2 separate regions of the Homo sapiens genome follow, and region 1 is linked to region 2. Evidence: fine-mapped expression QTL. A gene starts in region 2. The other region holds a variant in brackets. All regions are shown on one strand. Distances are between the middles of the regions. Region 1 overlaps UQCC4 (ubiquinol-cytochrome c reductase complex assembly factor 4). Region 2 holds the start of CCDC154 (coiled-coil domain containing 154).

The links.
Region 1: its variant is fine-mapped to the expression of CCDC154 in putamen (GTEx, PIP 0.92).

The regions. Positions count from the first base shown.
Region 1 is chr16:1,417,527-1,420,529 of GRCh38, reverse strand. UQCC4 (ubiquinol-cytochrome c reductase complex assembly factor 4) reads left to right here. Exons shown (of 2, transcript NM_001272051.2): 2 at 1-778. The coding sequence ends at 284. Among named protein-coding and RNA genes, the nearest start is that of UQCC4, 1.7 kb to the left of the region's middle. RefSeq lists enhancers at 20-69, 80-149, 1-492. The variant G/A (reference allele first, on the strand shown) is at 1,554.
Region 2 is chr16:1,443,038-1,445,762 of GRCh38, reverse strand. It overlaps CCDC154 (coiled-coil domain containing 154), which reads left to right and starts at 1,207. Exons shown (of 17, transcript NM_001143980.3): 1 at 1,207-1,447; 2 at 1,751-1,967; 3 at 2,068-2,257; 4 at 2,462-2,502. The coding sequence starts at 1,441. CLCN7 (chloride voltage-gated channel 7) reads left to right here. Exons shown (of 25, transcript NM_001287.6): 25 at 1-828.

The sequences.
Region 1 (3,003 bases), 25 kb after region 2:
CCGCCGAGGAAGAGGACGACCCTGACCGCCCCATTGAGTTTTCCTCCAGCAAAGCCAACCCTCACCGCTGGTCGGTGGGCCATACCATGGGAAAGGGACATCAGCGGCCCTGGTGGAAGGTGCTGCCCCTCAGCTGCTTCCTCGTGGCGCTGATCATCTGGTGCTACCTGAGGGAGGAGAGCGAGGCGGACCAGTGGTTGAGACAGGTGTGGGGAGAGGTGCCAGAGCCCAGTGATCGTTCTGAGGAGCCTGAGACTCCAGCTGCCTACAGAGCGAGAACTTGACGGGGTGCCCGCTGGGGCTGGCAGGAAGGGAGCCGACAGCCGCCCTTCGGATTTGATGTCACGTTTGCCCGTGACTGTCCTGGCTATGCGTGCGTCCTCAGCACTGAAGGACTTGGCTGGTGGATGGGGCACTTGGCTATGCTGATTCGCGTGAAGGCGGAGCAGAATCTCAGCAGATCGGAAACTGCTCCTCGCCTGGCTCTTGATGTCCAAGGATTCCATCGGCAAGACTTCTCAGATCCTTGGGGAAGGTTTCAGTTGCACTGTATGCTGTTGGATTTGCCAAGTCTTTGTATAACATAATCATGTTTCCAAAGCACTTCTGGTGACACTTGTCATCCAGTGTTAGTTTGCAGGTAATTTGCTTTCTGAGATAGAATATCTGGCAGAAGTGTGAAACTGTATTGCATGCTGCGGCCTGTGCAAGGAACACTTCCACATGTGAGTTTTACACAACAACAAATGAAAATAAATTTTAATTTTATAATATGGGATTAGATGATTCCCTTTTTTTGCATCTAGTTTTTAAAAAGGGGGTATTTGGGCAGCTATTGTTTTTTATTTTAATCTCTTCTTGTTTACCAGAGCACGTAAGTTAGTTGCACCAGCAGCTATTTTTAAAAGTTTCCTTTTCCGGTCGGGCGCGGTGGCTGACGCCTGTAATCCCAGCACTTTGGGAGGCTGAGGCGGGCGGATCACGAGGTCAGGAGATCGAGACCATCCTGGCCAACACGGTGAAACCCTGTGTCTACTAAAAAATACAAAAAATTAGCCGGGCGTGGTGGCGGGCCCCTGGAGTCCCAGCTACTCCGGAGGCTGAGGCAGGAGAATGGCGTGAACCCTGGAGGCGAAGCTTGCAGTGAGTCGAGATCGCGCCACTGCACTCCAGCCTGCACGACAAAGCGAGACTCCGTCTCAAAAAAAAAAAAAAAGTTTCGTTTTCCTTTTTTTTTTTTTTTCCAGAGTGGGAACTGAGGAAAGAAACCTACATATATATTACCGAATAGTACCAGAAATGAGGAACTTTTGCAGTTTTCTGCAAAACTTTTTAAGCAAGGCAACCATTTTCTGAGTAGAATACAACTAGTGAGTATTTCTTTTCACAAATGATGGGCACTATTTTGGGTTACCTAAGTGATTGTTTTTTGTTTTTTTGTTTTGTTTTGTTTTGTTTTTATTTTTGAGACAGGGTCTCACTCTGTCTCCCAGACTGGAGTGCAGTGGCACAATTTTGGCTCACTGCAACCTCTTGTCTCCTGGGTTCAAGCA[G/A]TTCTTCTGCCTCAGCCTCCCGAGTAGCTAGAACTACAGGCTTGTGCCACCACACCCGGATAATTTTTAAATTTTCAGTAGAGACGGGCTTTTGGCATGTTGGCCAGGCTGGTCTCAAACTCCTGACTTCAAGTGATCTCTCCTCCTCGGCCTCTCACAGTGCTGGGATTACAGATGGGAGCCACCGCGCCCGGCCCCAGATTGTTTTCTCTTTTTTTTTTTGAGATTGAGTCTTGCTCTGTCACCTAGGCTAGAGTACAGTGGCTCCATCTTGGCTCACTGCAACCTCCACCTCCTGGGTTCAAGCGACTCTCCTGCCTCAGCCTCCAGGGTAGCTGGGATTACAGGCACGCACCGCCACACCCGTCTAATTTTTGTATTTTTAGTAGAGACGGGGTTTCGCCATGTTGGCCAGGCTGGTCTCAGATTCCTGACCTCAAGTGATCTGCCCGCCTTGGCCTCCCAAAGTTCTGGGATTATAGGCATGAGCCACTGCGCCCGGTCAATTGTTTTCATACATATATACCTATACATGTTTCAGAGACATGCAGCAGATCCCAAGTGCCTCCAGGGCAGCGATCTGGGAGGGCTTTTCCAGTTGCTGACCTCACACCTGTGCCGTAGACAGACCCAAGGCCAGCTGGGGATGGTGGGCGGATCTTCCCTACTCCTGGAGTTTTCAAAGGATGGCAACAGAGCAGGTTGATAGGTGAACAGTTAATTCAGTACAGTTAGTATTTATTATTATTTTTTGAGATGGAGTCTTGCTCTGTTGCCCAGGCTGGAGTGCAATGGTACAGTCTTGGCTCACTGCAACCTCCGCCTCCGGGGTTCAAGCAATTCTCCCGCCCCAGCCTCCTGAGTAGCTGGGATTACAGGCGTGCACCACCATGCCCGGCTAATTTTTCTATTTTTAGTAGAGACAGGGTTTCACCATGTTGGCCAGGCTTGAACTCCTGACCTTAGGCAATCTGCCCACCTCGGCCTCCCAAAGTGCTGGGATTACAGGCAGGAGCCACTGCGCCCAGTTGTATTTAACTATTTTTGTAGTGTGTTTGTCTTGTTTTCCCAACTGGGCTGTAGCTTTTATTTTCCCCAGGGTACATGGCACACTGACCTCCCCAGATAAGCATTTGAGAGGGAGACCATTGTAAGCATGCTAGAACAGACGCAGCTGCAGCGATTCCTAAGATGACAAATGGCTGGGCAGGAGGTGGAAATTGTTTTTTGTTTTTTTGTTTTTTTTTTGAGACGGAGTCTCGCTCTGTCACCCAGGCTTGAGTGTGGTGGCACGATCGCGGCTCACAGCAACCTCTGCCTCCCGGGTTCAAGCAATTCTCCTGCCTCAGCCTCCTGAGTAGCTGGGATTACAGGCGTGCACCACTGCGCCCAGCAATTTTTTTTTGTATTTTCAGTAGAAACGGGGTTTCACCATGTTGGCCAGGCTGGT
Region 2 (2,725 bases):
AGGGTGACCTCCCTACCCCGCCCCTGCCAGCCACCAAGCGCAGGTGCAGCGGGGGCCAGACTCCTGCCGGCCTCAGAGGACACCTGGCCCAGCACAGGCAGCTAGAAGGGCCGGTGGGCACCGGGGCCGGGAAGCCCCCACCTCACCACCTGAGGGCCCCTGGGAGGCTCCTCTGGCCTGGCTGGGCTGGGTCTGGGGCCGCCACAGGCCCCTCACGGGGCGGCAGAGGCAACTTCAGTGTCCCTGTTAGAGCAACACGGGTCCCTCCGTGGGGGGCTGGGTGCGGCCCCCTGCCGTGTATTTCCTCCCCAGGGAGTGGGGCCTCCCCGGGAGCTGACGCCACCACCCTGCTTAGCCCTCACAGGGCCCCAAGGTGTCCGAGTGTGTTGGGTCTGAACGCGAAATAAAGAAATCCTCTCAGCCCGCCTTTGCCAGCGTCGTCCCTCCCACCCCACCCAGACCACGTCCAACAGCCTGGGACTTTCGGGACCCTGGGGTCGGGGCACCGTGTGGAGTGAGAAAGGCGTGAAAGACAGCGGCTGCGGCCACCCAGGGCACCAGCCACATCCTCTTCCTCGTCCCCGCCCCTCAGCCTCCCTCCTCTGGCTCCTGGCTGGTGGGTCTGGGGGCAAGGCAGAGGCGCTCCAGGTGGAGGGGGGCGGGCCGGGGTGCCCACGCTGGGGTGACGCAAGAAGAAAACTCCCGGGCCTCAGAGTCGGCGCCGGAAACCTAGGTCTGGGTTTCCCTCGTGGTGGTTGTGTACTGAGGACCTGGAAGTGATCATATTTTGGATATATTCGGTTAAATAAAATCAGCGGTTAGGATTCACATCGCTGCTTCTTGCCTTTTAATGGGGCTGCTGAGCAAGATGGGTTCCCGTGGAGCCCGGCTGTGCCCCTCACCCCGATGGCGCTGCCCAGGCCTCGGGCTCCGCTCGGACGTGGGCCTGGCTGTGTCCGGGGTGTCCTGGGGCTCTCGGCCTCCCTGCTCCCAGCGTCCCTCCCGGCGTGCCCAGGCCTCGTCAGGGCCTCCTTCCCCTCCCTCGGCAGCTGAAGAAGTCCCCTTTGCCAGAGGACACGTGTCTGCGCCCTCTCGGGAGTGGGGCCCCTCAGATCCATCCAGAAGCAGGCAGTTGGGGGGCCCTGCGGGAGTGGGAGAGCTGAGGGCTAGAGTTCCATTGGCAGTTGGGCTGTGAAGCCGTGAGGTTCTGGGGAGAGAAGGAAGGTTCTGGAACGGCCCCGCTGCCCCACACCTGCCTCCCTGGGGACCCTGAGAAGGCAGCCAGACGAGGGCAGCAGCTCGTCCCTCAAGGCCCAGAGCTCTCACGGGACTTCCTCTGGCTCCTGACCCCCCTGGCCTGTGCCCAGCTCTGGGCAACCTCAGAGGCCCCAAGGCCCAAGCTACAGCCGAGGGCAGGGTGGCCGGTGCAGCCCAGCAGCCATGTCAGGTGACCAGAGCGGAGGAGCGGGGCCCAGGGAGGGGCTTGCCACAGGTGTGAGGGTGGGGACCGCTCTGCTTCTGACCCCGGGCTCCCTCCAGCTCGCTTGTTCCTGCCGCCCAGTGCTGTGTGTCTTCAGGCAGGGCCCTGGACTTGTCTGAGCCAAGCCCGTCTGGATCCTGTGTGACCCAAGGAGACGCGTTGAGCTCTGGGTGGTGGGCGAGGGTCCTGCGGGGGTTTGGGGCCTTGTTCCCGTAAGCTCCAGTGGGGGCCGGGCCCCAAGGGGCAAGCTCCCAAGATGCCTCCTTGTAGAGTTGGCTGACAGTGGACCCTCAGGGGCATCGGCCCCTTCCCAGCTGAGAGCCGTCACCCTGGAAGACCTGGGGCTCCTCCTGGCAGGAGGCCTGGCCAGCCCCGAGCCCTTGAGCCTGGAGGAGCTCTCGGAGAGGTATGAGTCCAGCCATCCGACATCCACGGCCTCTGTCCCCGAGCAGGACACCGCCAAGCACTGGAACCAGCTGGAGCAGTGGTGAGCCCTGCAGGGGGTGCTGGCGGGGGAGGACCACGTCGCCGCCGCCTCCGCCTCCACGGCGGGCACCGCCAGACTCGCCCACTCTCGCCCCGGCCAGGGTGGTGGAGCTGCAGGCCGAGGTGGCCTGCCTGCGGGAGCACAAGCAGCGCTGTGAGCGCGCCACGCGGAGCCTGCTGCGGGAGCTGCTCCAGGTGCGGGCCCGCGTGCAGCTGCAGGGCTCAGAGCTGAGGCAGTTGCAGCAGGAGGCGCGGCCGGCAGCCCAGGCCCCCGAAAAGGAGGCGCCGGAGGTGAGCGGCTCCCCCACCCACAGGTCGAGCTGCCCCTTTCCTGGGTGTTGGGGGCAGCTGCTTCTGGGCCTGGAGCCCAGCTCACCCCTGCTGCCCAGGCCCAGAGCTCCCAGGGGCCAGTGGTGCCGGAGCTGGGTGGACTCCAGGGGCAGGTGCCAGACCCGGGCCTAGGTCCAGCCCACAGCCTCCTCTTCCTCCTCGCAGTTCTCTGGTCTCCAGAACCAGATGCAGGCCCTGGACAAAAGGTACCCCCCACACACCTAGGGGCACAGGCCCAGGGCGGGGAGGTGGTGGCGAGAAAGCAGCGGCAGGTGTGGTGGGGGGTCCACATCTCCCGCTGGGTGTCGCTGGAGTGGGGGATACACATCCAGGTCCAGCTAGAAAAGGCCGGGTTTGTACGTGCCTGGGCGGCCTTCAGAGGCCCAGGAAAGCCATGGGAGGTGGCCACAGGGGCCCCTTGGCCAGACC